Homo sapiens: one gene and its partners. The protein of the gene in region 3 purifies or fractionates together with the protein of the main gene of each other region. This does not show direct contact. Each region holds a gene or a part of one and is shown on either strand. Other genes may lie near its edges. The genes, in order: CUL1, ACP3, FBXL4, PLCD1, TRIM29, DNASE1L2 and SELENBP1.

What was found.
Region 1: the proteins of FBXL4 (region 3) and CUL1 purify together in Homo sapiens (affinity purification with western blotting; 4 studies listed by BioGRID, with this or other methods). This does not show direct contact.
Region 2: the proteins of FBXL4 (region 3) and ACP3 purify together in Homo sapiens (affinity purification with mass spectrometry; 2 studies listed by BioGRID and IntAct, with this or other methods). This does not show direct contact.
Region 4: the proteins of FBXL4 (region 3) and PLCD1 purify together in Homo sapiens (affinity purification with mass spectrometry; 2 studies listed by BioGRID and IntAct, with this or other methods). This does not show direct contact.
Region 5: the proteins of FBXL4 (region 3) and TRIM29 purify together in Homo sapiens (affinity purification with mass spectrometry; 2 studies listed by BioGRID and IntAct, with this or other methods). This does not show direct contact.
Region 6: the proteins of FBXL4 (region 3) and DNASE1L2 purify together in Homo sapiens (affinity purification with mass spectrometry; 2 studies listed by BioGRID and IntAct, with this or other methods). This does not show direct contact.
Region 7: the proteins of FBXL4 (region 3) and SELENBP1 purify together in Homo sapiens (affinity purification with mass spectrometry; 2 studies listed by BioGRID and IntAct, with this or other methods). This does not show direct contact.

Annotation. Positions count from the first base shown.
Region 1 is NC_000007.14:148,705,403-148,709,421, reverse strand, and holds part of CUL1 (cullin-1), read right to left. Parts: intron 1-4,019. UniProt on the Homo sapiens protein: Core component of multiple cullin-RING-based SCF (SKP1-CUL1-F-box protein) E3 ubiquitin-protein ligase complexes, which mediate the ubiquitination of proteins involved in cell cycle progression, signal transduction and transcription.
Region 2 is NC_000003.12:132,330,697-132,334,715, reverse strand, and holds part of ACP3 (prostatic acid phosphatase isoform PAP precursor), read right to left. Parts: intron 3,070-4,019; coding exon 2,983-3,069; intron 2,525-2,982; coding exon 2,372-2,524; intron 1-2,371. UniProt on the Homo sapiens protein: A non-specific tyrosine phosphatase that dephosphorylates a diverse number of substrates under acidic conditions (pH 4-6) including alkyl, aryl, and acyl orthophosphate monoesters and phosphorylated proteins.
Region 3 is NC_000006.12:98,878,078-98,882,096, reverse strand, and holds part of FBXL4 (F-box/LRR-repeat protein 4), read left to right. Parts: intron 1-1,472; coding exon 1,473-1,544; intron 1,545-4,019. UniProt on the Homo sapiens protein: Substrate-recognition component of the mitochondria-localized SCF-FBXL4 ubiquitin E3 ligase complex that plays a role in the restriction of mitophagy by controlling the degradation of BNIP3 and NIX mitophagy receptors.
Region 4 is NC_000003.12:38,026,599-38,031,208, forward strand, and holds the start of PLCD1 (1-phosphatidylinositol 4,5-bisphosphate phosphodiesterase delta-1), read right to left. Parts: upstream 3,045-4,610; 5' UTR 2,942-3,044; coding exon 2,908-2,941; intron 1-2,907. UniProt on the Homo sapiens protein: The production of the second messenger molecules diacylglycerol (DAG) and inositol 1,4,5-trisphosphate (IP3) is mediated by activated phosphatidylinositol-specific phospholipase C enzymes. Essential for trophoblast and placental development.
Region 5 is NC_000011.10:120,135,219-120,139,988, forward strand, and holds the start of TRIM29 (tripartite motif-containing protein 29), read right to left. Parts: upstream 2,896-4,770; 5' UTR 2,814-2,895; coding exon 2,010-2,813; intron 1-2,009.
Region 6 is NC_000016.10:2,234,927-2,239,638, reverse strand, and holds DNASE1L2 (deoxyribonuclease-1-like 2 precursor), read right to left. Parts: upstream 3,196-4,712; 5' UTR 3,079-3,195; exon of another isoform or gene 2,862-3,078; 5' UTR 2,823-2,861; coding exon 2,679-2,822; intron 2,602-2,678; coding exon 2,513-2,601; intron 2,422-2,512; coding exon 2,338-2,421; intron 2,264-2,337; coding exon 1,990-2,263; intron 1,873-1,989; coding exon 1,621-1,872; intron 1,278-1,620; coding exon 1,221-1,277; 3' UTR 928-1,220; downstream 1-927. Other genes in the region: transcription factor E4F1, read right to left, coding at 4,067-4,423, 4,496-4,558, 4,638-4,712. UniProt on the Homo sapiens protein: Divalent cation-dependent acid DNA endonuclease involved in the breakdown of the nucleus during corneocyte formation of epidermal keratinocytes.
Region 7 is NC_000001.11:151,363,433-151,366,902, reverse strand, and holds the end of SELENBP1 (methanethiol oxidase), read left to right. Parts: coding exon 1-181; intron 182-449; coding exon 450-628; intron 629-1,056; coding exon 1,057-1,135; intron 1,136-1,218; coding exon 1,219-1,340; intron 1,341-1,621; coding exon 1,622-1,714; intron 1,715-1,858; coding exon 1,859-1,977; intron 1,978-2,197; coding exon 2,198-2,360; 3' UTR 2,361-2,599; downstream 2,600-3,470. UniProt on the Homo sapiens protein: Catalyzes the oxidation of methanethiol, an organosulfur compound known to be produced in substantial amounts by gut bacteria. Selenium-binding protein which may be involved in the sensing of reactive xenobiotics in the cytoplasm.

The DNA of each region.
Region 1 (4,019 bases), on a different chromosome or scaffold from region 3:
GGACTTGAATCTCACAAACTTCATTCAATTTTCTAAAATAAAATGTACACATCAAAACTGCAAATAAATAAACTTCTGAAAAATATAAATACAATGGAATAAAGAGATGCACACTTTAGGACTATTTTTCTTTTTGCCAAATCACACACACAAAGCCCAGAGTATGTATGCGCATATACGCAGTTTGGCCTGTACTCAATTGTCAGTAAAACAAATCCTCCTCTGCATTTTTGGCGGGGAAAGTACTCTTTTTAATGTGAAACTGTAGTTTCATTCACTGCCGCCAAGAGAGGCGTCAGAATGCTTTTTAGAATCACTTTTCCTATAACTATTAAGGGAATCACTATCCTAGTTACACATACACGCTCACCTATGTTTACCATAAAAAGCTATGTGGATACTCATCTTCCACAATATCCATATTTTTGAAACAAAACTTTAGTGTAATATATGGTTTGCTGGTTATAATCAGTGAATTATTTAATCAGTTTTCCACAAGTTAGCCTTATCAATAGAAAAATTCCAACATTTATAATTTATTATGGCAAAACCTCAAAGTTAACACAACTTCCGCAAATTGGTTGCTTTGTTGAAATTTTGCTAAATGTTGTTACTAGAAATCACATTCCCAGTTTGAAGAGCTGAGATAGAGACAAATACCCAGAACCAACATCCAGCTACTTTCAAGTGAAAATTGCAGCAGAGCCAGTTTTTTTAAAAAGCATGTTAGCATGATACACACAGCTAGATTTTCAGGATTTTTTTAAGCTTATGAAGATGAGATAGGATGGTTGTGGCAAAGGGCTGCAAAGACAAAGAGCAGAGCCCACTCTATCAAATGCTAGCAGCCCAATACCTGCCCTGGAGAGCCTCTGTAATCAAGGAAGCCAGGCAAGTCCTGAATGAAGCAGCAATCAGCAGCGCACTGCATCGCCAGGCGTGAGGGCAGAATGAAGCTGGTGACAGCGGGGCCAAAGAGGAAGGTATAAACACATAGTGTTATGGGGGAGGAACTAGTAAGATTTGGTAGATCACTGAATATGGACAAACAAAAGAAGTCAAGTCTGAAATCTGTGTCTCTGACACAACGCTAGAAATAGAGATGTCGGATATGGTCTAGGGAGCAAAAAAGAGATCAGTTTGGGGCAAGCCAAGTTGGAAGAAAGGCCAGGTTAGTCAAATGCAAAAGCCCTGAAGGCTATTAGCAGGACTGCAAGGCTCTCAGCTGAAGTTGCTGAGAATTGCTTAACCTGAAAAAACTGAGAAACCACAAAGCAAAAAAGACTAGAAGAGAGGATCAAGTTAAAGCTATCTCCTGAATGCTCATGAAGAGTTAGAAAAGATAAGATGAACTGGAACAGCAAGTATTCTGCACAGAACCCTAACCTCAGGAGGTCACCCAAGAAAAAAGAAAGGTAACCTGGTCCACAAGTCTGGGAAATGAGCGATGTGGCCCCTACTCAGAAGGGGACACTGGAGAACAGACCTGGTGATGCTTCCTAAACTCCTCTAACGCAAGACATCCTGAGAACAGCGTTCACCCTCTGGAAACCATGAATTGGAAATGCAAGAGAACCAATCTAATGAATCAAGTACAAATCTAAGAGTGCCTTCAAGAGAAGTATTGAGATGCTTTTAAAACCCAGGAAGTTTTAGATTTTTAAAGAAAAAATGTGAAACAACTTTGTAGTTAAACCATTATTTTACAGGTTTAAAAAGTGTTCTCCATGGACACCGGGAAGGGCACAACACTCACTGGGGCCTGTCAGGGAAGGTGTGGGGACCAACACCAGGGAAAACAGCTAATGTATGCAGGGCTTAATACCTAGGTGATGGGTTGATCGGTGCAGCAAACCACCATGGCACACGTTTACCTATGTAACGAACCTGTGGTACCCTGAAACTTAAAAAAAAAATTATTATTTAAAAAAATAAAAAGTGATCTCAACATGACACCACCAATAACATGTAAATGACACAGGCTTTGATTGTGTTGTCTCCCATATGCTTTAAAATTTTTTTAATATAATTCCTCTGATAGTATTTAGGATTTAAACAAGGACTAGGGTGAAGCAAAAATTATTTCTAGACACTAAACTTATAACCATACTCATTAGGATCCTGGCCTCTATGGCACTTCCCACACTGTGCTACAAAGAACCACGAATATTTCCAGGTGCTCGTTCCAAGAGAAAAAAATGAACACATCAATTCACTCCATATCAAATCTCTACTGTAAAGACCTAATTTTCCACATTCGATGATTTTAAAATCAGTATGTGTTCTACAAAACATGTTAATATGGTAGGGGAGTTTTCTTCCTTCAAAGGTAATTTCTTATTAAATTAGGAGTGGACCTTTTAATATATATGAATGTAGGTATGTATACATATATACATACCCTATAAGATATATCTCCCTGTAACAGCAGCAAAACAAATTAAGATTTTAAAGGCCCTTCAATATGCCACCTGGCATTTCCTACGTTTATTCACAGATCTTCCCTCCTATTCCCATACCTTACATATCACAGAACACAGACAGCCAAATATTGGCCTAAATAAAAATCCTGAAAATGCAGTAAAACAAGTAGAGTAGTAAGGCAGAGCTCCATTATAAAAATACCAGTGACCAAAACAAACAAAATCTTCATAATGTCGAGAGAACACATACAGTACGTTTCACCTGTAAAGCCCCAGCTAAACTGCAGACATTAAACACCCACCCCGCCCCCCGCCGCCCCCACCCCCAACACACATACCCTGTATAGGGCAAAGTCCCCTATATATAGAACATGTAACAAAGGCACTACTGAAGAGCCAATTTCAGTATGTGTCTTCAGCATTCCTAACCCTTCTTCCCTTTGTGTGTTTTGAGTCCCTTGTTGGTAGGACCTACTCTACACAGATGCCCAAGTAGCCTTTCATCAACACATCAAATAGGAGACCCTCTCATTTCAGTAGTCTCTACTTTATGATTGATGTAATATATTCCCATGCTGTGTGTCAAAGTCCATCCTCAACCAGGACTGCATTAGACAGCCTTCTGTCCCATTTGAGGTATCTCCAAGCAGCAGAAAGCTGAGGGCAAGCAGCTAGGGAGTCACAAAGCAAGCTCGGCACAGTCTTTGGCTCATACCAAGCACTGAACACAAATTGAGTATCCTTTATCTGAAATGCTTGGGTCCAGAAGTCTTTTGAATTTCAGACTGTTTCATATTTTGGAATATTTGAGGTATCTTGCGGATGGGATCCAAATCTAAACGGGGAATTCACATGTTTCATATAGACCTTATACACACAGCCTGAAGGTAATTTTACTTTCCCCTTGGGGACACTGAATAAACTGTTGTGCACCTGCATGTTGACCGTGGCCCATCACATGAGGTCGGGGTGAAATGATCCACTTGTCACATCGTGTTGGTAACTAAGGAAGTTTTAGATTCTGGAGGATTTAGGATTTTCAAATTAGGGATGCTCAACCTAGACTAAGGGTTATTATTGCATGTAAGATAAAATGGCAAGCAAACGTTTTAAAGATTTTACGTATTTAAAATGAGAGAAGTCAGAAGAATCAGTCTGGAATTTTTCTTCTCCACCATCCCCCACACCAAAGTCTCCAAGTTCCTATAGATAAGCTTGAAGTTTGGGGAGGGGGAAATGGCCTAGTCTTCATGTCTATTCCCTGAATTCCACTTGGGATCAAAGAGTCTGGTTTATTGACATCATCTAGGATTCCAAACCTTTCCTTCCAGTCTCACCAAAGCCTCCTTCCTGCCTTGAGAAAAGGAGGTCTGAGCTGTCAGCCTTTTTCCCCCGTTCTGACTTTCGGATGCCTATTAGGCACACGTAACTATTTTAGTTAGCATTTAATTAATTTCGACATAGCAAAGGTGCCCCCTCCCAGCATTAGGTGACACGTTTCTGTGCAACGGTTTTCTCATAATTACAACAGTATTCCTCATTTGTACTATTTAGCATACACTTCTTAAATAATTGATGGTAGCCTCTGAATTTTCC
Region 2 (4,019 bases), on a different chromosome or scaffold from region 3:
TCTCTTTCTAAATATGAACTCTGGGCACAGAAGAACTGGCATTCTACATATTCACTCATGGTCGTGTTTTTGTGCTGCCTTCCTCTCCTTCCTCCCTCTCCTCTGAGGTCTGGTTCAAGTTCTCACTCTCTTTATGAAGACCTGAACGACGGCCCTGTGGTAACTGCACGTAAGTCTCATTCTCTGACTTCACCCAGCATATGTGGCTTGTACTTGAAATTATTGCCCGCCATCTTATAATGTCTTCTACACATTTCACACATGCTAATTTGCTTTCATCAAACTATAAATTAGAAAAACTTCGCCTCCTATTTCTCTACAGCATTCAGCACAGCTAAATGCTAGGAATAAGCTAGTGTTGATTGGTTTCATTAGATTTCTTAGTTGATATGAGAGAATTTTTTTGACCTTAGTGAATCAGATAGATGGAAGCCATAGGTAGATAATGTTCCTTGCTTCTCTCTTTCTCTCCCTCACTCTCCCTGTTTCTTTCCTCCTCTTCTACTAGCACCTGCATTCTCTTTCTGTGTAACTTAATTACTATCATTCAGGATTAATTGTTAAATAGCTGTTGTGGTCTACATTTTGCTAAATTTTGGTGCTGCTATCCAGTCTTTGTTTTGTTTTGTTTTTTATTTATTTTTGAGACGGAATTTCGCTCTTGTTGCCCAAGCTGGAGTGCAACGGTGCGATCTTGGCTCACTGCAACCTCCACCTCCCAGGTTTAAGTGATTCTCCTGCCTCAGCCTCCTGAGTAGCTGGGATTACAGGCGTGCACCACCATGCCCAGCTAATATTTGTATTTTTAGTAGAAATGGGGTTTCACCATGTTAGCCAGGCTGGTCTCGAACTCCTGACCTCAGGTGATCTGCCCGCCTCAGCCTTCCAAAGTGCTGGGATTACAGGCATGAGCCACCGCACCTGACCTCCAGTCTTTATCTCTGCAGAAAAGGCTGGTAAAGTGATTTTTTTTCTTTTTGGAATAAAATATTCACAAATGCTTAACACTGGTAATCACAATACTTCCCTCATGATTCTGTGAAGGAAAAGAGATGTAAATGAATCATCCTGTCTTTTCAAGAAACAGCAGAAAAATGGTTGGAGTAGATTTAACTCCAGTGACTTTCTACACAGCATTTGGGAAAAATCCCTAAGTCCCTAGATGCAGCAATTAAGTCAAATTTCTAGGGGTACTGGCAGGACAAAGAGGATAGTAACCTACCCCAGAGGTCACTGGGCAAAAGTCTGGGTCCAGCAGTCAGGCTAAGCTTCAGCCATAAAGAGATGCGATGGTCATGCCTATGATGGGACTGCAGGGAAATTAGGAAGGGATTCTTTGTCCCAAACTATTTCTTTCATATAGCCTTAAGTTTCACACCTGGAAGATTAGTTAGATTTATCTATTGCTACTTTAAAAATACCCATTCCTCTGAAAAGATTAAAGAAAGCTTGGTCGGTCCCAACCTGTGTAAACACGTTTGAGAGTTTCTCTCAAACAGCCCCATTCAGGCAGCTTAGTTTATAGTACTGGTTCTCAAACTTGCCTCCCCACTGGAATCATCGAGGGAGATTATTTTTCAAACACTGATGCCTGGGTCCACCCTCAGACATTCCGATTTCTTACGGAGAGTGCCCTGGGCATCAGGATTTTTTTTAAAAAACCACGTGATCCTAATATGCAGCTAAGTCTGAGAATCATGATTTTATAGGGAAGAAAATTGCTCTGGAATGAAATAGGCCTAGTTTTAATCCCAGAGTGATGCTTGCCAGCAGTGTTGCTTTGGACCAATTTGTTTGTTATTTAACCTCTCCAAGCACTTATTTCCCTCACTATAAAAGGAGAGCAAGAATATTGTCCATTCAGAGTTGTTATGAAAGGTAACACAATGATTCACATAAAATGTTAGGCAATGATTATGCACTCAAATCTTTTTTTCTCTACCTAGGAATGTGGATTTTCATGAGTGGAGGAGTGTTTGGTGGTATAAATATCTTTGGATAATCTGGAGAGTGGAGAAACCTGTTTGGGGCACCAAAAGCCTGGGAATTAAGGCAGAACACTGGGGGACTTGTCTATCTCCCTCTCCCTCTCTCTCTCTCTCTGTGTATGACGATGAGGGGGCAAATTGCCAAGAGTTGCAAGAGTGGCAAAACAAAGTGGATCATACAGATCCAAAGAGAAATTTGGTTCCTACTCTCTCTTAGCTAGGGTTTTCCATGTCCTAAATTGTCCTTTGTATCTTTATTTAAGAAAGAATTAAAACTGCACAGCTCAAGGAGTGTCCAGACTCCCAAATCCACAACTGTTGAGTAGCCTGCCTTCCTCATTCTAGGTCCATCTGAAATCTCCTGGTTTTCCCAGTATACTGACCTGATCTTCAGAAAGAGGAACTGTGTGCACCGGGATGGGCTGCCAGAGTAGGATAGGATTCCAGATGCTGACACCTTCTGGGGGAAACAGGGCTGCCAGGTTTGTCATAGCACTCATCAAAGTCCGGTCAACGTCTGTGCTTCGAATATAAACCTAGAGTAGGAAAATCAAAGCAGAAGCGAACGTAAAGGGAGCATGAGGTTTTTTTCTACAGAGCTGCCAAGGTATTAGAGAAAGGAAAGGACACCCACAGTGAAATATTACAGACATTGTGCTAACATCAGAATCATAATACTTGTTAAGGAATGAGCAATATTATGATCATGGTACAAAGCAACCTGGTTGGCCAATAGTTGAATTGACAAATGAGATCAATTAAGCAGTGGCTACTTGTCAAGCCAAAGTATTTATTCAGGTGTTCATAAAATCTTGAAATTACTCATATTCACAAACTTTTTGGAACAAAAATTTGCATAAAGAGGAATATATTTGTAAACAAGACCTCTGACTTGTATAAGTTCCTTGGAAAACAGGCAAAGCACTTTTATATATGCAGAATTATTTTAATTATTTCAAAGATCAAAGTTCCCACTCTTGGCTCCCCAACTTGCCTGTTCATGTTTATAGGACTCATTCAAGAATTTTCTATATCTCTTTCTTATATACTCTCCAAGTTCATAATGCTGCTCCATGCCCAGCTATGGGAAAAAAATAAAAGCAAAAATTAATGAAAGTAAGTTCTATGAATCACACTATCATAAAAATTTGTTGATTTTTTTTTTCATTATGTGTGTAGAATGAACAATGGTGTGGTTTAATAGTTCCACAATAATGACACATATTTAAGTGAAAACAAAAGAGCTGTACTCTTTAGTTACAGTTCCCTGACTCCCTGAGAAAACTCATTTATCTTCATTAGCACTTAACATAGAGACTTGCACATAGTAAGTGCTTAGTTGATAGTTGGGTGATTGATCTGATTTAAGTAAATGGTTCATCTCTGATGTAGTGGGATCCTTGTTGGTAGAGCATTCAAAGAGACCCACTTGGTGGGGATTTTGTGGAAGAAGCTCAACCATCTGATGAGATTAGACTCGATGAATCTGAAAGTCTCTTTCAACCTCTGTGGGCAATGCTTTACTATCTGCCCAGTTTATTAATTCCTGGTTCATAAAAAAATTAGAACATGTTACTCTAAGTGTGGTCTGTATTGGCTTCACTTAAAAGCATTATAGAAATCAAATTCTTGGGCCCCACCCTTGACCTACTGAACCAGAACCTTTGGGGGTGGTGCTCAAGAATATTTTTTAACAAGCTTCTGATGGACAGTAATCACTGAGATGCACTGCATTAGCTCAGTGGTCCACAACCATTACCGTGCATCAGAAACAAAATTATCCAGCGGTGCATGTTGAAATGCAGATTCCTCAGCATCTCCATCAGAGATTCCAGCTCATTAGTTCCTGAGTGGGGCCCTGACATCTGCATTTTAACAAGTCTCCCAAGTGATTCAGATGCATGTAGTAGAGCACCATGCTTTGGAAATGCAGCATTCAAGTTTGTCTTTAATCCAGAGCCTTACTAGAGCTTTGGGAGCCAGAGAGGAGGTTGTTACGGTGGCTGCTGCTTGGTCCCACTTGTCATTTGC
Region 3 (4,019 bases):
TGTATTTATCTCTATGTATGTGTATTTTTTAATTTAAAATTTCTTACCAACAAGAATTTATGAGATTCTTTCTAAAAATTCTAATATTCTCTGGATCTTACTTAAGGGAAAATCTTATAAAACAACCTTTTAATATGGATATGGTCCTGTAATTAAAAAAAAAACAAACCTAATGTTATGTTCCTGTCTGTTAATTAGTTAACATGGCTAAGTATTGTGAAGAACCTGAAAATTAAATTATCTTAATATACCCTTTCTAATGTTAACATTCTGAGAGCTACATGGGATTGTTTTATAAATGTTGTTATGTTGAAACTTAAGTATAAAATCAATATAAACTTTTTTTGTTTAAATTCAAAGAAATGCTCAATAATGAAATAATTAGACTTAAGTATAATAGTCCTCTGTGGCCTATTGTAACTATTATTATTTTTGCTTTAAGTAACCTTACATTTGAGAAATATTTTATTACTTTATTTTCTCAATGAGAATCTTTATCTGGGATTTGACCAAATGTTTTACATTTTCATTGACACATTCTTCACCTTTCCCTCAACTGATAGTTTTTAGTTTCTGATCACTTGGAACAGATTTTTACAGAAGTTGTATAATATCTTAATTTTTAAATATATTTAAAAATGTATAAGATATTTTGCCATGTAAGTTTGAATAGTTTTCTCCTTAATTGATAAAAGAAAAATTAGAAATTTGAATATTTTGCATTATTTTGTTTTTCACAATTTTTCATAGCAGACTTTTTTAAAAAAATATTTTAGGGTGCCATGATTATGTAGCAGTCTTTGGGTTTCTTTAGTGGTGAGACCATTTTCATTGCACAGGATAGATGGGCTTAAATGGCAGGAACATGACTAGAAAGTACATATTATATATATTTCAGTCAGCATGTTGCTACTGACAGGTGCTCAATGGTTGTTGGTATCCTTGTCAGCAAAGAGAATCCTTTGACATTAAAGTCACCAGCTCAATCCTGATTTGGGGTGACTCTATTGGCAGTTCCATCAAGCTGCAGCTGATCAGTGAATGTCAGAGCTGCAGCCATTCTTCAGGAGTGTCACCAGCCTGCTGCGGGTTTTTTGTCTTTTTGTTTTTGTTTTTGGAGGGAGGAGTGGTTTAGCTTGTCTTGTTGTTCAATTGTAGCCAGACTTTCAAATTGCTTACCTTTGGGAAATGAACCGAGAGGTCATAGGGAATATAGGTATCTTTAGGGCATCCAAAACCATACACAAAGTGATTACTTACATGGAGACTAGTAATGATTACCTTGACTCCAAGCCAATCAATGGTGGAGCCTCTGGGGACTCATTAAATGGCATTTGTGGACTCTGTAACCTAGCTTTTGAGCTGCATTTCAGGAAAAGCAGTGACAGCCTTTAATGTCTAATTGACCTCTTCTCTTTGTTTCACTTTCATTCACTTTCCATATTTGCCTCTGATGTGGTCCCTAATGGCAGCAAACAGCACTGCTCAGCATTTTGAACTTCTGTTCAGAGCTTCAGCACCTCAGTTTAGGCAGTTGTGTCATGGTAAGTGTTTGAGAATTCTTTATACTACTCAATTACTTGTTCTCTTTTTCTTCCTATGGGTGAAATGTATCCTGACTCACCCTACCCCACACACACCCACAGTTTTTCAGATTTATGGTTCTCTTCTTTGTCCCTTGCTTTCAAACATTTTTCTTAAATTGGAAAGTATGTCTTTGAAACACTGACATTATTTATCCATGAGAGCAAGGAAAGAAGTATAGTGTGGTGGAATAGAGTATAGTTCTGCCTCAAGCCAGATGTTGTCTCCGACAAGCTAATCACCTCTCTAGGTTTCTTCACAAACTAAGGTGTTAGTCATACCTAAATGCCGATAGTTCAGTAAGTTTTTCACTAAGCTCATTTTAGCTTTTAAATCCTGAGATACTTTTCTTGAAATTTTAATGATAATAGATAGGTTTATTTTATCTGTTTGTTTTTGTGTTTGTTTTACTGTCCTTACTGGTCAAAACAGAAAGATTAACACCCTATGTTGGAACTCTTTTTTGTGTGTGGAAATTTTACTGGTCTGTGAAATATAAAAGCCTAGGGACTGTTGGACTAGATAAGCTTCAAAGTCCTTCCAGATTTTTTTTTTTTTTTTTTTTTTTTTGAGATGGAGTCTTGCTCTGTTGCCCGGGCTGGAGTGCAGCGGCGCGATCTTGACTCACTGCAATCTCCGTCTCCCGGATTCAAGCAATTCTCCTGCCTCAACCTCCCAAGTAGCTGGGATTACAGGGATGTACCACTATGCCCGGCTAATTTTTTTGTATTTTTAGTAGAGATGGGGTTTCACCCTATTGGTCAGGCTGGTCTTGGGTTTCACCATATTGGGCAGGCTGGTCTTGGGTTTCACCATATTGGGTAGGCTGGTCTTGAACTCCTGACCTTGTGATCCGCCCGCCTCGGCCTCCCAAATTGCCGGGATTACAGGTGTGAGCCACTGCGCCCAGCCTAGTCCTTCCAGATTTAAAATACGATTTTATGTGCCCTTGAAAGAGCTCATGGAAAGAGTTAAATGTTTTAATCTAAACCACATAATTATATAGCTTTTAAATAATACTGAGATATAAAGGACAATAGAAATCTTGTGTGGAGAAGGTGTGCATGTGTGTGTTTGTGTGCACACATACCGTAAGTGAATCTTCCAGTGTAACTGACTGGAAGAATTCATTCCTCCTCACTTCATCCCCTGTTCCCTAAAACAATGTAGGTTTAGGAGATCCCCAGACCATTCCATTTCTGCCTTGCATTCACTTAGTAGGAAGACTTGAATTAGCAAAATGATTGCAAGATTCTAGAAAACTTCTGGTATGCTAGGGAGTATTTGCTTTAAGTAACCTTACATTTTGAGAAATATTTTATTAGAGTCAATAGACAGGGTCCCTGACCTAAAATGAGTACCATTTGAACACCTCTTAGAGCTCAGTGTGGCTTCAGAAATGCCTCAAGATTTGGCAGTGTAGACTAAGTAGGCCTCTTTTGATGACATATTTATCTCTGTGTCCCCATGGTCTTTAAAATCTTGTGGTTAGGTCTTATTAAACCCTAAGTATGGGCTCAGGCCATCTCAGTCTCTAGAAACAGTCTTGGGAGCCCACTAGATTTTCCTCACTTCTGGTCAAATTCTTTCCATAGTAAGCCATTTGATAGGCTTCTGTGGGTCTCTTCAGTGACTCTTCTTGATGGACCCGATGACATTTGATGGCAGTTTCTGTCACAACAAACCAGCCAGTTACTGCCACTTGGATCTTCCTTATTGCTAGCCTGCTCTCTTTAGATTGGTAAGGACCATTTAACTTTGCTTAGATGTACCTTATTCTGCTTGTTATTTACCTCCCCTTAAACTGGAGCAACATTCCTTAGAAAATCAAGCCTCTGGCCATAGACTCTTTACTGTTGGAATTATATATATGCTTATAATTGAAATTGTATTATTTTAAGTTAGCATTTTCCAGAGTTGACCCATGGAAAATTACCTCTAAAGGATAATCAATTTTAAAGGCTGTGTATTTGGGGGTGGAGTGGAGATTCCTAATGAAATTAGGAAGCCAGGTATGGTTGCTCAAACCTATAGTCCCAACTACTCTGGAGGCTGATGTAGGAGGATTGCTTGAGCCCAGGAGTTTGAGGCTGCAGTGAGCTATGGTTATACCACCGCACTCCAGCCTGGTCTTAGAGTTTTACAATGGTGTGTGCTACAACAAAGAAACTGTTTACCTTTGCTAAAACCAGTGTTTTCAAACCTTGCCTGACTACTGAACTCATTTTTCTATATTACATTTTCCATATTACATTTTATTGTTGACTGTCAATATAATAGCAATGTTTAGATTTGTGATATTTATGAAGCAACTGTTCACAGTATACATACATAGAGCACTGTGCTGACTTTCCCATGGTGATTGTGATCTATTATATACCTTCGCTGAGTATTCACCTCATGGCATACTTTCTCTGTAGTGAGTTTAATGTAGA
Region 4 (4,610 bases), on a different chromosome or scaffold from region 3:
TGTGGCACAAAAAGTTAAGATTGGTGTGGATCAGTGTGTGCCTGTGTAGCATGGGCCTGGAAGCCCAGGGGCAGACTGCTTTGGAACACAGGTGAGTGAGGAGCTGGCCACCCCAACTTGCTAAGAGCTCTGGAATCATCATCTCTTGGAGGACTGGTTTTTGGGGCAACCTAGAATTTCTATGCCCATTGGCGTTTATGTTCACAACACCCACTGTGAAATATGTACTGCTATCCCATGGATGATTCTCAGACCCACAGTAAGTAGAACCAAAGCTAGGACTGGAGCCCAGGTCTACTGGGGCCAAGATGAGGCCCCTCTATTTTCTGTTTTTACAAACGGCACCTCTTGCAGGGGTGGGGGCAAAAGGGATTGGGTGTAGGAAAAGTTAGTGTGTATGTGGGGGGTGTTCAGTGAGGGGAGGGCCCTGGGAGGTAATGTCCTTTGGGGCACATCGGGGGACCTGCTAGAGAAGCCAGTCCAGGCATAGCCAGAATAAAGAGTGGAAGAAGTAAGGTGAAGGAAGGAGGATGGATGCTGTCGCATCAGTCTGAGGGCTTCAGAGGCACTAGAAAGAGCTGGCTGGCTCGCTCTTGAATCTAGTTCTGGCCCTATTTTCCATGACTAGGAACTACCTTATGATGCCCCCATCATCTCCCAAAGAACTACAGATGGCAACTCATAGGGCATAGAAATTTGGGGAGGGGGCCTCCTGCAGGAACATAGTACTCACTGGGTACCAGGCACTGTTCTAACTGCTGTGTAGATATTATCTCATTCAATCTTCGTAGCAACCCTATGAGGTAGATGGTATTATCCCCCATTTTACAGATGAGGAAACTGACACACAGGGAAGTCAAGGGATTCATCTGAGATGAGAAAGCCAAGACTTGAACTCAGGTACTTTGCTTTCAGAATCTATGCCAGTAAACTACATTACTTCTGCATGCATCTGGGGTGAGGACAGAAGGGACATGTCACATCTAGGTGAGCCGCATAGCTCCCCAGGCCAACAGAAGGAGTCCCTCTGGGCTCCTTCCAGAGAGTGTGGAGCCCTAGGCCAGAGAGTGTGGTCCTGCAGCACATCCAGTGCTGGGGCACCCACACTGTGAAACGGATGCAGACTCTCCAATGCAAGTGTAGACAACCTGGAACAGCACAGGGCACAGTGATCACCCCCTCCCACCAACAATTCTCCTTGACAGGTTCTTATTTCCCCATCTGGTTTGCAGTGTGGACAGAAGGCAGTTGAGGTAATTTTGGGTGATGAGCTAGAAGTGGCAGGGCCTTCAGGGAAAACAGCTTGGGGTCACAGTGTTCATGTCAACCCTTCAGGAAAGGCTGGACTGAGTTAGGCATTTGGGAGGCTGGTCTCAAATGGGGTGGGCCAGGGCAGCCAAGCCTATGCCACAGGACTGGGAGGTCCTGACTGAGCCTCCATGTGTCTTCCTCCATGGAAAAGATATCAAGGCTGCCTCAGGAGAGAAACTGGACAAAGGCACAGACACTGAGGATGAAGCCTGTTCCAACAGGAGCCAAGGAATGACGCTGTGTCAGAGAGAAAGCAGAGATGTCCACTGTGTCCTCTCAGCTGCCCAGCCTCCCTTCTTGCTAGTCTGGCAGGCGCACGAAAGACACCTCTGGCCTGAAGAAAGAAGAGGGAGCACTGGAAGGGGCAGGGACTCCATGACTCATCTAGACAAGGTGGCTTTAAGGAGCCTAGGCTATTGGTGTAAAAGCAACAGCTCTGGGCACAGAGCAAGGTCTCTCTGGGCCAGGAGGACCAGGTCTGTGCCAACTGCAGAACACGAGATAGACTGGAGGCTGGCTGATGGGAACATCTCTAAGTCCCTCTAAATTCCAGGGGGACTCTAGTGGAAGGCTAGAGGACTCTGCCCTTCTCTTTCCCATCTATTATGTCCATGAACAGTTTAGATGGATGGGTGGTGGCCACTAAAGCCTCCAACCCCAAGGGTACTAAAAAAGAGAGGGATATACAGTAAAGCAGTGATTGGTATGAAAGGAGCAGGGTTTGCTGAGATGGCAAGTGACCTGGGAGGGCAGGAGGGCAAGCCCCCACCAAGAGTGAGTGAGTGCCTGTCCTGGAGCAAAGAGGCGCCCAAAGTTACCCTCCCCAACCTCCCGCCTCCCAGAAGGCCTCCAGATCTGCCTTCGGGAGCCCAGGCTCCCCTCGCTGCTGGAGGGACAGCGAAAGGGCAAAGAGCTGGCTCATATTGGAGGAAACAAAGCTCCGCTGGACAAAGGATGGAGCAGGCAGCTCCGGCTGAGACCTGGCCCTGTCCCCCGAGGAGGGTCGCAGATGAGGGGATCGTGCTGCTTCTTTCAGCCTGAGCATCGCTGACTATTCTGCGCTGGGCAGTTAAGGCTGCACGGCCCGACCACGGTTAACCTTGCACACCTCCTCTCCCCACCCGCTTAGCCCCTGCTCCGCCACACCCGCGCGGCCTGACGCGGTCCAGGCACGCCCAGGCTTTGGGGAGCCTCTGGGGCGGCCCGGATGGGGCAAGGAGAATTTTGGTCGTTCTTGGATGCTGTTTCCTTCCTTCGCCGCCCCTCCGTGCGAGCGGGATCGTGGAGCCCAGACTTTCATGACCAGGACAAGGGGGTCCGCGAGGCGGAGGGAAGTCTTTAGACCCGTACCGCCCGCCCACCCACCCCCCGGGCTAGATCTCGGACAAGCCTGGAAACGCCCAGGGTCGTGCCCGGCAGTCCCACCCAGGGAGCCGCGGGCTGAGATTTTCCCAGTCCGGAGAAGGGGCAGAGAGGCGGGCCCGGGGTGGTGTGGAGGCGGCCGAAGGAGCTGGGGGCTCCCTGTCCAGGGCCCGGAACAGCTTTCCAGGGGTCCACCCCTGCAGGGTCTCCCGCTCGCGCGGGCCAGGCACTCACCGTGCAGGGTCAGGAAGTCCCGGCCCGAGTCCATGCCCGACGGGCGGCGCGGCGGGAGGGGCACCGCGGGACTCACTTGAGTAGCGACAGCACCGGCGGCCTGGGGTCCGAGCGGAGTGCGGTGCAGGGACCTGAATGGACCGCGGTGGGAGGAGGCCGGGGGTGGTCCCGGGACACCGCCCCGCCCCCGCTGCCCTGCGCCCCCGCCCCCTGAGCCCGCCAACCCTCGTCTCTCCCCGCCCCCTTCTGGGGACGCGAGAGGGAGGGCAGAGCTGGGGGCCCGGAGGACTGGCCAACCCTGGCCCGGGCCAGCGGGCGCGCCCCGACCAGAAATAGCCAGATTCCTCCAGCTTCCTCCGCCGCCGCCACCCACGGGCCGCGGGCCCTGTCATTACCGCGGGCGGCCGGGCCCCACGCCCTGTTGTGGGCGCCTCGCTGGGGTCGGGGTGATGCTGGAAAGAATCCGGCGTCATCCCGGGGAAGGGATCGTGTAAGGTCCGACGCCCAGCCGGGCTGCTGCGCTAGGGAGACGCGGCGTCCAGGCTTCCAGCCGCAGCTCCCAGCGTTCGCATTCCCTTCTGCGAAATGGGTGCACGGACACGATTAGAAGGTCTTCAGAGAGCAATACCTGGACCTTGTCGGGAGGAGGGTCCCCTTCCCTCTCGCTGGGAGGTTTCTAACCCCAAGAGTGCCTTTGGTGGAGTGTTGGGGGTGTGGGAGGGGGAAGCAAGCAGGTGCACGGATTTCACTTTTGAGCCACTCATATCCCAAAACCCCAGCGATCCATGCAGCCGAGGGGGAGGATCCCCAGGGTCCCTTCTTCAGGTGGCCTCCCAAGGGGCTGTCTGGGCAAGGTCCCTATGCAGACCCACCCCCTAACTCTTGGGACCCAGAAAACCCCCTTTATAGGTTGCCCAGAGACCCCTCCCACCACAGACCCTGGGAGGGTCCCTAGATCCTGTTGCCCACCACCCCTTTGGAGAGTCCCTTGGGAAAACTGGGCTCTTGGTGTCAGAGAGCCCCCAGAGGGCCTCCCAGGAAGCCACCCAGGCCTCCTGGGCTGATAAGGCCAATGTGAGAGTCAGGCAAAGCTAGTTGGACCAGCTCTGCGGGGAGGGGGCTGGGCTCACCCCAATCCCTCCTCTTCTGGGCCCTAGGTGGCCTTGAATAAGGGATGTGAAACAGCTGAAGGACAGTCTTCTGGTTCTGGGGGTTAAAAGTGGATCAGGACTTCTGGGCTTTGGAGAGCCCCCTGCTCTGCATGCCCCCTCTCCACAGACGGGGCTTCACCCCTTACCTGGCACTCAGCTCCAATCCTGTCCTGCAGTGCGAACACCCCTGCCCTGGGCAGGCCTGTCAGTTCCTTCCTTGGTTTCCCTTCTGCCCAGGGCCACACTCCATGTTTGCTGAGGGATGAGCAAATTCATACTGGCAGGCATCACTCTGGACCTCCATACAGGGGATGAGTGGGGAAGAAGGGTCCCCTTCTCTGCCCTCTGGAGGCCTCCTCAGGCCTTGGAGCCTACCACTTGCACCTCTGATACTCCTGGAGCCTGCAAGCCCCTGTACTCAGCAAATCAGGCCTCCTCAAGCCCCCCTCCTCTTCCTAGGCAGCGTCACAGTGAAACTCTGACACCAGGAGTGGACATGGCTTCATCTCAGTCATCATTCCTATGTATTCACATCATCTCCCAACTCTGAGC
Region 5 (4,770 bases), on a different chromosome or scaffold from region 3:
TAATCAATAAGAATGTCCTTTGCTTGTAGTCGAGGTGGGAACCTGAATGCTCCGCCTTCTTGACACTTCTTTACCCCCTCCTCATCCTGAGGCCTCGAAGACATGTCTAAGAATTCCAGGGCTCTGTGGGGTAATTTGAAAACCAACAATCTAGCCTCACCCCTTGGGAGAATGAGACTGAGCGTGGAAAGGACTTATTCACAGCCTTACAGTTAGTTAGAGGCAAAAACTGGGACTGGAACTCGGTCACATTTCCTAAAACCTTGTCTGAGGCTCTGCAATTTCTCAGCTGCTGTGATGAGGATGATTGCCTCTTGTTCTGTCTAACCTCCCAAGTAAACTCCCTAGAATGAGTTTCATGGCCCCGTCCCATCTATATCTCTCAGTATGAAACCTGAGGCCACGCTGGGGTCAGAAGATGGGGGAAGCTGGAAACATCTTCTTCCTGGGCCAAACGAGGCTTCTGGAAGGAATCTGTGAGTCTGTTCCCCTCTCTACCTCAGCCCTTTCTGTCCAGGGGTGTGGGTGAGAGATGAAGGGAAAGAGTAATCAACCAGCTCCTCCTGGTCAGGAAGGCTGGGCAGGAAGGAATCCTCTGCTGTCCAGATCTGAGGTGTGCAGAAGCTCTTCAGGAAAGTGGAGTTCACTGCTTTGGAGGCCAGGAAGGTTTGCCCCAGGAAGGCCACCCACAGCAGGAAGCTGTGTACCTTAGGGAAGAGTGAGCCCCACATCTGTGGGGCAAAGGGCAGTGGCCACAGCTGGGCCCTTTGCCCAAATCACCTTCCCCAGGTATGCTACATCCACAAGCCTGCACTTGCCTCTGCTCCTCCCCATAGAAGTACAGGCACAGTCACATAGAACTCATGCAAACACACTTACGTATCACATATATGAATACATGCAAACATCCACAAAGGCACAAAAACACCCACGTGCACATAAAATAAACACATATACAGATGCTCCTCAACTTGTGATGGGGTTATTTACCAATAAACCCATTGTAAGTTGAAAATGTGATAGGTCAAAAATGCTTTTAATACACCTAGCCTACCAAGCATCATAGCTTAACCTAGCTTACCTTAAACTTGTTCAGAGCACTTACATTAGCCGACAGTTTGGCAAAATCTTCTACTACAAAGCCTATTTTGTAATAAAGTGTTGGATTTTATGGAATACTGTACTGAAAGCATAGCACTTTCACATCATTGTAAATCAAACCATCCTAAGTCAGGGACTAGCTGTACACGTACACGCCATCCACACACAAACTCCAAACTTCCCCAACGGTGTCCGCCTGCAGGAATATGTGTGTCCACACACAACCACACACGCAAAACACAGGGCCCAGCTGGGAGAAGGATAAAGGAGGCTGTGGAGGAAGTCAAGAGACCAGCTGGGGATCAGCTAGAACAAGAAGCCACTGTACGACAATAAAAACTACAAAGACAGCAAGAAGGACCTTTCAGTGGGCCCCAAAATTCTCTCCTTCTAGTATCTTTCCTCACCCACAACCCATTCCCCAGGGGCCAGTCCGACTCAGGTTGGAGGAATTATCTCTTCTTCAAAGCAAAAAAAAAAAAAAATAAAAGAAGAAGAAGAGGAGGAAGAAGAGGAAGAGGGAGAAGGAGAAGAAGAAGAAAGAAACACCTCAGCCAGGCACAGAGCCCAGAAGTGAGGTCTATGCAGTTGGGTCATACTCTCTAACCTGACTCGAATTTATCCTATGACTTTGGTCAGGCCCTCAACCTTTTCTGAGTCTCCATCCGCTCATCTAGAAAATGTCCCTGTCTCCTGAGACCTTAGGGGATTGGGGAGCAACCTCTGATCCCCAGCTGGGATTAGGGGGGACAGGGGGCATGAGGGGAAATAAATGTTTTCTAAAAGAGCCAAGGACAGTAGAAACTTAAGCCCCAAACCCGAGGAAGCCCGAGTGGAGAAGATGAAGTTCGGAGGGGTGGGGTGAGAGAGGAGAGGCCTGGAGGGGCAGGAGGGGCCCCAGCACTTACCTCCTTCTCGGCCTTGGCCTCCTCCACTGTCACGGTGCTATGATTCTTGTGCTCCTGGAACATGCAAAGGTAGCAGATGCAGGTCTGGTCGGTCTGGCAGAAGAGCTCCATCGTCTTGCCATGCACGGGACACTTGCGGGCCTCAAAGTCCCGGATGGGCTCGAGCAGCTGGTGGTCTCGGAAGGCGGCGCCCTCCAGGTGGGGCTTGAGATGCAGCTCGCAGAAGGAGGCCTGGCACACCAGGCAGGACTTGACCGCCTTCTGCTTGTTGCCGATGCAGGAGTCGCACAGCACCTCCTCGGAGCCGGACTTGGACCGTGAAAAAAGGCCCGTGTCGGCCCGGGGGTAGCTGTTCCGCCGGGTCTCCCCGGGCTCCATGATGGACACCGTGGGCTTCCGGGACTCCGAGAAAATGGACTTGCGCAGCTCGCCCTTTTCGGCAAAGGTAACGGGTGGCTTCTTGGCAGCCCCCAGCTGGAGCCCTGCGTACGGCGACCTCTTGCCTTCCATAGAGTCCATGCTGAAGTAGTTGGAGTTCTTGTCGTCCCCGGACTCGACAAACTGGATGATGGGTCGCCGCCACTCATTGCCCGCGAACAGGGCGCTCCTACCTTCCCCTGGCTTCAGGGCGCTGCCCAGGCTCTTGCCCTCAGCTGCCTCCCCGCCGTGCCCGTTGGTGGTCTTGGCATCCTTGCCGTCAGCCTTGGTGCCATTCTCCAGGCTGCCACTGGGGCCCGACGGGCTCCGGGCATCCCTGGCTTCTGGGCTCGACCCGTTGCTCCTGGAGGCATCTGCAGCTTCCATCGCAGGGTGCTTGGCTGAGCTGTTTCAGGCTTGCTGGGGTTCAGGATAGGTGACCTTTCTGGCAGGCGTCTCGGCAGGGAGTGGGGCAGGCAACCACGAGGACTAGAGACACACCTGTGAGGAGGAGGAGGGGGAGGAGGCGGAGGAGGAGGAGGGGGAGGAGTGGAGGGGAGGAGCAACAGGCACAAGCCTGACACAGCGGCCCGGGAGAAGCAGGGAGCCCCGCAGCCAGCAGAGCAGATAATTGCACAGGAACCACGCCCTGCACATTCATCCCTAACCTGATTTTTAAAAGAAGTGTTTTTTCTCCCCCAGCTTATTTTCCACAACTCAGCAACCAGTTGGGCTGCTTCCCTCTGACGCACTTGCTTCTCATCCGGGGAGCGGGGAGTCTCCGTCTTCACAAGTGGGCAGGCTTCACTGAGCCCAGAGGCCCCTGGGGCAGAAGGTGAGGTGTCTGCAGAGGCCTACCAGACACAGGGCTGTTAACTGGGTCACACAAGCCAAATAGCCTTGTAATTTGCAGGCCTGAGTTTCAGAGGAAAGATTGTCCACCCTGGGACTGTATCGCTGCTTTTCACCTTAAGGGGGAAGGATGGGTTCCATTTGATTTGGCTACTGAGTATTGAACCCTACTTGCCAACCTCCAGGCACTTTCCTAGGTATTGCATATATTACGAGCTCATTCAGGCTTCCCTAAAACCTGTTCAATTACCCCTTTTTAACAGATGAGAAAACAGGCTTTAAGAAGATAACTCACTGGCCTAAGTCAAGTGGCCGAGCTGGGATTTGAACCCTAAGCCTTTGAGAAGCCAAAGTCCCTTCTTCAGCTGGGTGGTCATGGAGTCACCTGAATATCTCATCAGAAGATGGCTTCTGAGAGTCTGTCCTATCCCAATGGCCCCAACAAGATACATATAGACCTTAGATTATTGCTACCTGCGTGGATTCAAATGACCAAGGCACAACAATGAGGGGAATCCAAGCAATGCCAGCCCAGGTGGTTGGGTCCTCAGGGCCCAAACACTTGACTCTCACCTGTCTCCACACTTGGTCTGCTGTGTGACTCAGAAAACACCTGCCCATCCTCTCTGGGCCAGGCCACAGGCAATGCCCTCCAAAAAGAGGTCAGCAAAGTGTGAGATTCAGATAATCTCAGAAGTCACCTGTTCAAATATGACTATCATATAAATACAGACCTCAGGAAGAAAAGTGAGAAAAACAAACTTCATCCCCTTCCTCTCCGTGGCCCCTGCGGAACACCAGGACCCTTAGCTCTTGTAGGACATGCCCCCCAGCCACTTCTGGGCTCTGACCCATTGACCTGGTCCTAGGAAGCCTCCAAACCCCTAAGGAAAGGGCCGTGCCTCTCCAAGGCCAGGCTGGGCAGGGCAGAGCAGACAGTAGGTGAGGCTGGCGTGGCAGGTTCTGGGCTGTGTGGAGGGGAATGGGTTTCCCTTCCTTCCCCTCCAATCCATGTCAAGCTAGGAAGCCCCCGCCCCTTTGCCTCACCAGGCTGAGCAGCTAATCCTTTGCAAAAACAGCCCCTGGGAACAAGGGCAGAGACAAGCCCACCTCACAAAGCAGTTCACTTATGAGAGGATGTATGTGAGGTGGTGTTGGCGTGGGGAGTGCTGGCTTCATGACGGGGATTCTCCTCTTGCCTGAGGTCTCTGTCTGTGGGCCCCAAAGGAGCCCCCTCTTGTTTGAACTCACTGGTGAATTGGCTAAGAGCTTGTTGGGCCTTCTGGGGAGGGGGACACTTACTCAAAATGCCAGGCCCAATTTCTCTGGGCTCTTGCCTGAGGTACGGAGGGAGAAGGAGAGAAGGAAGTCCTGTCCTGGCCTGCTGGATTGGGACATGCCCCTCCCCTTTCCCTAATAATATTTCCCTAACCTGGAGAGAACAGGCGGTGAGGAGAAAAGAACAGAGAGGACACAAAGAAACAGAAGAGGA
Region 6 (4,712 bases), on a different chromosome or scaffold from region 3:
TGGACTGCCTGCTCTTAGGTGTAAGGCCAGGTGGTCTTGGCCCCCATGACCCACACAGAACTCCCCAGGGAAAAGCCCTTTGGTCACTGCCCTTACTCATCAGGATGAAGAGCGCACAGTGAATCAGAGCAACTGGGGGATCCTGAGCCAGCGGGAGTGGGACTCTGGAGGCAGCTGTGCTGCCAGGGATCCAAATGTCCCTTAAGAAGGATTTTGCAAGAACCAAACTCATCCAAACCCTTGAAACAAAGGTTTTTCCTCCCATGCGATTCAGACCAAGTTACCACATCTTGCTAAGATGTGATGTTTCAAAAACCAGAAACCTCATCGGGCCCCAGTCAGTGACCCAGTGGACCCGTGGGCCTGCCTTTTCCCTATCCTAATGTGTCCTTGCCCAGGCACAGGGCAGCAGCCTTGAAGGGCTGAGCCACGGCGAGCTGGGCGGTTCTTTGCACGGGACCTTAGTCCCAAGCCACCTGCCTGGGCAGGGAGGAGTCCAGCCCGCCCACTGCTCTCAGGCTCTCCAAAAGCTCCAGGGCTGCTGACTAGCTGGGGCTGGCCTCCCCTTGCAGTGCTGGGTAAGACCGGGCTCTTGAGACAGACAAGTGCCTGGGGGCCCCTGCAGGGCCCTGGAATGGGGGCTGCGGGGTGGGCCTGGGGAGAGCTGTTCTGAGAGCCCCGAGGGCCCAGGAGGCTGGTGTGTTGGCGCCATCCCTGTCCCAGCTGTGCTCACAGTACAGGCTCCTGGGAGTGTTTGTAGTTTCCACAGAGGATGAGCAAGGAGCATCCCTGAGCTGCCTTCTGGGGCCAGCAGGCTCCGGGGGCAGCCACGTCCCACCAGGACATGGGGTGGGCAGCCCAGGCCATGGCTGCCCCTAAGGAGCTGAGGCTGGGTCCTAAGGAAGGACAGAGGCCTGGGAGCCAAGCTGTGGGGCCCGACCGGGAGCAGCTCATTTATTGAGCAGACATCTGCCGGGCAGTGCCCCCTGCACCCCTCATGGGGCTCACAACACCCCATGAGGTCGCTGGATGCAGCCCGTCCCACAGATGGGGAACGGAGGTACAGAGCAGCACATCACGTGTCCATGGCCCCTGGTCCACGCCCAGCCGACTCTGCCTTGGGGCCTCACTGAAGGGTGGCTGCCACCCTGAAGGGGCCACTGTTGGGCCATTCCTCAGAGCCAGGGTCTGCAGGTGGCATGCCCCAGCCAGGCCTCGAGTCATCGGTGGAACTTGAGGGTCACCTCCACTGGAAAGTGGTCGCTGATGGCAAGAGCCTGTGGGGACAGAGTGAGCCTCAGGGGAAAAGTGCACCCCACCCACAGGGATGGGAGGGGCCGGTGAGGCCTGGGTGCCCACCCCTGCTGCTGCCTGCGGTGGGGCAGGGGCAGGGGCCGGGGCAGAGGGTGTCACCACTGGCCCTTTGAGGGAAAGGCAAGGTACCCTGCCTGCCCAGAGCTCCACATGGGGTGGGCCGGGCTCTCCAGGGTCCTTGGAAACGAGCCCTGGTGCAGGGAGGAAGCTGAGGTGGCCCTGCCTTGGGCGCTGGACCCTCCCTGCTGCCTGCGTGCGCCCGGGCGGTGGGGACCCAAGACCAGCACCGCCCCACGGCCCACTCGCCTGAGTCTGGTCCAGGCCGAATTCCTCCTGGAAGTCGTGCACGGTGGCCGACTGGGGCTTCAGGCTCCGGCGCAGGCGGGCGCCACAGGCCACAATGCGGTCGTAGGCGCAGTCTGAGTTGCCCACCGTGGTGTCGGCGCTGTCAGGGATGAGCCACTTGAAGACCTCACTGCTCCTCAGACGGATGGCGGCCCAGTCCTGCGCCCGCACATAGCTGCAGTCGGCGTTGAAGTCGCCCAGGAACAGCATGTCCTGCGGGCGCCGCGGAGCCGTGTCTGAGCCGCCGCAGGAGCCGTCGAGGTCCCGCCCTCATGAACCAGACCCCCGGGGCGCGCCTGCAGGGACCCCGGGACCGAGGGGTGGGCTTACGTCGGTGCCCCACTTGTCGATCACGTCCAGGTACACGTCGTAGAGCGCGTCGATCTCCGCCACGGCTTGATGCGGCGCCGCGTGCAGCGGGATCAGCACCAGGTTCTGTGCTGCTGCGGGAAGGGGTGGGGGCGTCAGAGCTCGGCGGGAGGGGAGGGGCGGGGCCCGCTCACCGGTGCCGGGGGCCGAGAACTTGACCACGAAGGGCTCGCGGCTGAAGACGTCCTCGGGGTCTGGGTACAGGTAGGTGTCCACGACCGACACCGCGTCTTTCCTAGGAGATGGGGAGGACCCGCTGAGCCCCCGACCTGCGGCCCCGCGCGCCCCTCCCTGCGGCCCGCCCCTCACCTGTACACGAACAGGTACATCTCCTTGTACTGGTCCCGGCCCAGGGGCTGGCTGCTCACAAAGCTGTACTCGTGCTCGGACACGCTGCGGAGACAGGGGCCCGCTCAGGGTCGGGGCGCCGCGCCGGGGCGAGATCCCGGCGGGGGGTCGCGACGAGGGGCCCTGCCCACCACACCTGTTGATCTGCTCCATGAGCGCGGACACGGCGCTGAGGTCTGGGTCTCGCACCTCCTGCACCAGCGCGAGGTCATAGCCAGCCAGGATCTGGGGAGGAGCGGCGGGTGCGGGGGTCAGCGCGGTCAGCACCCCTAAACGCCGCCCCGCCCCGGCCCGGGCCCCACCTTCGCGATGATGCTGCCGCAAGCGGGGTCCGACACTTTGCTGTCACCGAAGCTCTGAATGTTGAAGGCTCCGATGCGAAGCGCGGCGGTCCCGGCGGCTTCCAGCGCCCAGAGTGCGGCCAGCAGAGCCCGGGGCCCGCCCATGGCGCGGAGCGAGAGGCTGGGAGGGACAGACGCTGCCGCCTACGCAGACCCGCTGTCAGACCCACCGACCCACCCCTTCCCTCCGCGGCCGCCCCTTGACGGCCAGTGCGACGCGGAATCCGCCCCTGCGTTCTGCAGGCTCCCAGGGCACTGCTGGGCTCTCAGGGACCGCTGCCTTCTCACTGCGCGGGAAGCTGCAGCCGGAATGGAGGGTCCGGCCCATCCAGCCCCAGCTCAGGGCAGCCGAGAGACTCACCTTGGATGTGGGTGCAGAGGCCCGAGGCTCAGAGATCCTAGGGGGATGGGGATCCCGGGTCCAGGCTGCGGGCGTGTCCGACACAGGACTGCACTGACTCCCTCTGGCAGTAGCTCTGGCACCAAGGCAGGGGCCGGTATTTGAGGTCCTGGGCCAGGGAGGGGCCGGGCTGCACTGGGTCCCGCCCCCTCGACTCAGCTGGGTGCCTGATGAACTCCTGGCTTTCATTCCCATGGAGACCCCCAGGGTAAGGGGTGGGAGACCTGCCTGAGCCGGTTCTGGTGCCCCAGACCTGTCCCAAAACCGTCCCAGAAGCCCCTGCCAGCCCCCTAGGAGGGAGGTAGACGGTCAGCCACATCCCGGTGCGGCTGTGTTCTTGTCCTCGCCCCTAGAAATTAGGTCGCCTAGACTCTGCCTCCCTGAGCAGAATCCCTTCAGGGAAAGCAAGGCAGCGCAGGTAGGACCAGCCACACTCCCTACCCAGCATCTCCTGCTGCTGCTCCACCTGCTCACCCTGCGGTGGAGGCCGAGGCTCCCAGATCTCCCTGTCCCCGTCCCTGGTCCTCCCACCCACCCACAGGCCTCAGGCAGCGCAGCTGGGGGCACAGCTCCAGCTGGGCAGGGCAGGAGGCTGTTGGTCAACATGCCAATGACACCCACACAGCACCAAGGCGCCGCCAGGGCTGGCAGAAGCCCCTGGGTGGGGCGGCCAGGCACGTGAGTCTAGGAGTGGCCTGGGAGGCAGGTGCTGCTGCGGGGGCCTGGGCAAAGGTGGTGGCACCAGCCGCGGAGGCTGCCACTGCCACAACATCACAAGCTGCAGGTTCTCATGTTTTATTGTAAAGCAACAAGAAACTCTTATGTACACTGTCCGTCTTGGGGCGCCTCCATCCTGTGCCATCTTCTCTACCAGGCCAGGCAGGCATGGGTGGGGCGCTCAGAGTCCTCTGCCCTGTCCCTGCCCGGCCAGGACCCCGCAGACCTCATGCTAGACGATGACCGTCTGCACCTCCAGCTGGCCCTCCGGCGAGGCGATGACCAGCTCGCCTGCATGCTCCAGGATCTCGATGTCCTCTGATGACACCATGGTCACAGTGGCCTGTTCAGTGCCACTTGTCCCTGCCCGGGCGGCAAGCACAGTGCCCTCGCTGATGGCCGAGGCCAGCGTCATGGCCACCTGCTCTGTCAGGCTCTCGGGGGTGGCGATGGTGATGGTGTCGGCGGCAGCCGCCTCTGGGCCCAGCGCCGTCTCCTCGTCCATGGTGACGTTCTGCACGATGATCTGGTGGCCGGCGCTAGCCTGGTGCACGATCTGCTGCACCACCTTCATGATGTGGCTGTCCACCTGCAGGGCCACGGCTCAGCAAGAGCGGCTGTGCCAGGGAGCCTCCCCGCCCCCGCCTGCCCTACCCCTCACCTCTGTCTGGGTGCCCTCGATGATCTCCGTGGCCTCACTGGTCTCCGCATCGTCCGCAGTGGCCTGGGCAGATGGGCAGAAGGACAGAGGTCAGCCTTGGCTGCCCCTGGGTCCCAGCACGGCCCCAGGGCCCCACACCCACCTCGATGATATACTCCTGGGTGTCAGCTACCACGGACGAGAACTCCACCAACACTGTGTGCGGGTCTTCCGTGAG
Region 7 (3,470 bases), on a different chromosome or scaffold from region 3:
GGTTTTGTGCTGCTGGATGGGGAGACGTTCGAGGTGAAGGGGACATGGGAGAGACCTGGGGGTGCTGCACCGTTGGGCTATGACTTCTGGTACCAGCCTCGACACAATGTCATGATCAGCACTGAGTGGGCAGCTCCCAATGTCTTACGAGATGGCTTCAACCCCGCTGATGTGGAGGCTGGTGAGAATCCCCCCATGTGCCAGCAGGAGCCTTGGGCCTACATCCCCTTGCTTTCTGCTCCAAATCTCCCACCCCCACACTTCCCTCCTGTGGCCCCAGAATCTAAGAGAGATGGCATAGGATGTACCGCATGCTCAGATTGCTCAAGCGTCTTCCTGATCCCTCCAATCCATTTCTTAACCTTCTGCCCTGATTGGTGGCCCAGTCTTTGCCCATGCCTTCCAACCTCTGATGCTGAGCCTATCCTCCGGCCCCACTCCCACCCCAGGACTGTACGGGAGCCACTTATATGTATGGGACTGGCAGCGCCATGAGATTGTGCAGACCCTGTCTCTAAAAGATGGGCTTATTCCCTTGGAGATCCGCTTCCTGCACAACCCAGACGCTGCCCAAGGCTTTGTGGGCTGCGCACTCAGCTCCACCATCCAGCGCTTCTACAAGAACGAGGTGACATACGCCCTCTGGCCCTCCCCTCCCAGTAGTCTTGTCAGCAGCTCTACCTAAGCAGGCTTCTGTAACGGTGCTCCCAGGCGTCTCCAGGAACGAAAAAAATGAGGCTGCATGCCCTGTCTCTCTTCTCTCAGTGCTAGGGCAACTTCTGCCTGAACCCTAACTGGCCGTATTTATCCATTCATTCAAAAACTACTTAGTGAATGTCTGTGCTAGGCACTGTGCTATGTTCTGGGAATGCAGTGGTGAAGCAGACACAACCCCTGCCTCAAGGGGCTTGCATGGAGTTAGATCCTGCTGGCAAGAAGGCCGGGCATCTATTCTCTCCCTCCCAGGTCTGGGCAACCCAGATCTAACCCCTAGTCCCCAATTCTGATAGGCTGACCTCTCTGCCAGCTAACCTCACCCTCCACCCCTCAATGTAGGGAGGTACATGGTCAGTGGAGAAGGTGATCCAGGTGCCCCCCAAGAAAGTGAAGGGCTGGCTGCTGCCCGAAATGCCAGGTGAGTGCCTAGGGCATAGGAAAGTTGATTCTTGGCCTGGGAAACAAGAGTCCTTAAAGGCTCTACTCGCCCCCTGCCCACAGGCCTGATCACCGACATCCTGCTCTCCCTGGACGACCGCTTCCTCTACTTCAGCAACTGGCTGCATGGGGACCTGAGGCAGTATGACATCTCTGACCCACAGAGACCCCGCCTCACAGGACAGGTGGAGACCCTGGCAGGAGGAGCAGAAGGGAAGGAAGGAAAGAGAAGAGAAGCTGGGGATGGGGTGGATGATCTGAAGCAGCTGCAGGATGTTGAGGGAGGTGCAGGAAAAGCAGACATGTGTGCTGTGGGACAGCACAGGCCCAGGACTGTCCAGGCCAGGGATGGGCATGCAGAGCATGTCTGAAAGGAGAGAGGGGTTCCAGCCAGGCAAGCTGCTCTTCCTGCAATGTTTGCGCCTCCCACTATGGTCCTCCTTATACTCTGCACCTCCCCATCTAGCTCTTCCTCGGAGGCAGCATTGTTAAGGGAGGCCCTGTGCAAGTGCTGGAGGACGAGGAACTAAAGTCCCAGCCAGAGCCCCTAGTGGTCAAGGTAAGAGCCTCTCCCCCTACTTGCTGGACCCCTCAGACCCATGCTTGAGGAATATGTGGGGGAGCAGCTGAGCATACTCTTGGGGTTGGGGTGGTGCCTAGGATCTGTGTGTTACCCTGGGCTCTGACCCCTGGTTTTCCCAAGGGAAAACGGGTGGCTGGAGGCCCTCAGATGATCCAGCTCAGCCTGGATGGGAAGCGCCTCTACATCACCACGTCGCTGTACAGTGCCTGGGACAAGCAGTTTTACCCTGATCTCATCAGGTGAGAAGCAGACACATGGGCTCTCCTCCCCAGCCCTCCTCTTCCAGAGGGGTCATTTGGCTTTCTGAAGACTCCTCAAGGAGACCCCTGTACCCCACCACACAGATGGCCCATTGAGACCCTGGTCATTCCTCCTTCCTCAGGAGCTTTCCCCTAAAATCTTAGGGGAAGGGGGCAGCCACCTCTGACCTCTCCCTTACCCCATTCCCTTTTCCACCAGGGAAGGCTCTGTGATGCTGCAGGTTGATGTAGACACAGTAAAAGGAGGGCTGAAGTTGAACCCCAACTTCCTGGTGGACTTCGGGAAGGAGCCCCTTGGCCCAGCCCTTGCCCATGAGCTCCGCTACCCTGGGGGCGATTGTAGCTCTGACATCTGGATTTGAACTCCACCCTCATCACCCACACTCCCTATTTTGGGCCCTCACTTCCTTGGGGACCTGGCTTCATTCTGCTCTCTCTTGGCACCCGACCCTTGGCAGCATGTACCACACAGCCAAGCTGAGACTGTGGCAATGTGTTGAGTCATATACATTTACTGACCACTGTTGCTTGTTGCTCACTGTGCTGCTTTTCCATGAGCTCTTGGAGGCACCAAGAAATAAACTCGTAACCCTGTCCTTCAGATGGCCTTGTCTTTGGGGGCCCAGGGCCTGTGTCTCTTCTTCTGCCTACCCTTTGTATCATGCACAAGAAAGGGCTAAAGAGGCCTCCAGTGGGGGTTATGGTAACTAGTTCACACCAGTGATTCCAACATGATGCTAATAATGCCCAAATCTCAATTTTATGGCCAGACAAAATCTGAAAATTTTGGGGGTGATCGTCACAAGGAGACCTGGGGGTAGAGAATGTAAATCGGTGTTTCTAAAGTTTTGGTTTTTTTTTAACCCATGCTTTCTTTTAATGAACCTAAAAATCTCACCCATCACTCTCAAGAGAATGTAACATGCTCCCTCACACACAGGAGACCCCAGGATCCCTGTTGTGTATAGTGTAATATATTTCCACTGATGGCAAGACGACTGGGAGAACGCAGCTGTTGGGAGGTTTATCAGGCTGCTCTTGCATTGCTATAAATGCCTGAGACTGGGTAATTTATAAAGAAAAGAGGTTTAATTGGCTCATGGTTCTGCAGGCTCTACAGGAAGCATGACACTGGCATCTGCCCGGCTTCTCAGGAGGCCTCAGGAAACTTACAATCATGGCAGATGGTGAAGGAGGAGCACAAACATCACACGGCCAGAGTAGGAGCAAGAGAGAGAGAGCAAGGGGGGAGGTGCCACACACTTTTAAACAACCAGATCTCAGGAGAACTCACTCACGGTCTCAAGGATAGTACCAAGGGGGGTGGTGCCAAACCAGTCATGAGAAACCCACCCCCCATGATCCAGTCATCTCCCACCAGGCCCCACCTCCAACACTGGGAATTACAATTTGACATGAGATTTGTTGGGGACACAGTTTCAAACCATATCATTCTGCCGCTGGCCCCCCCA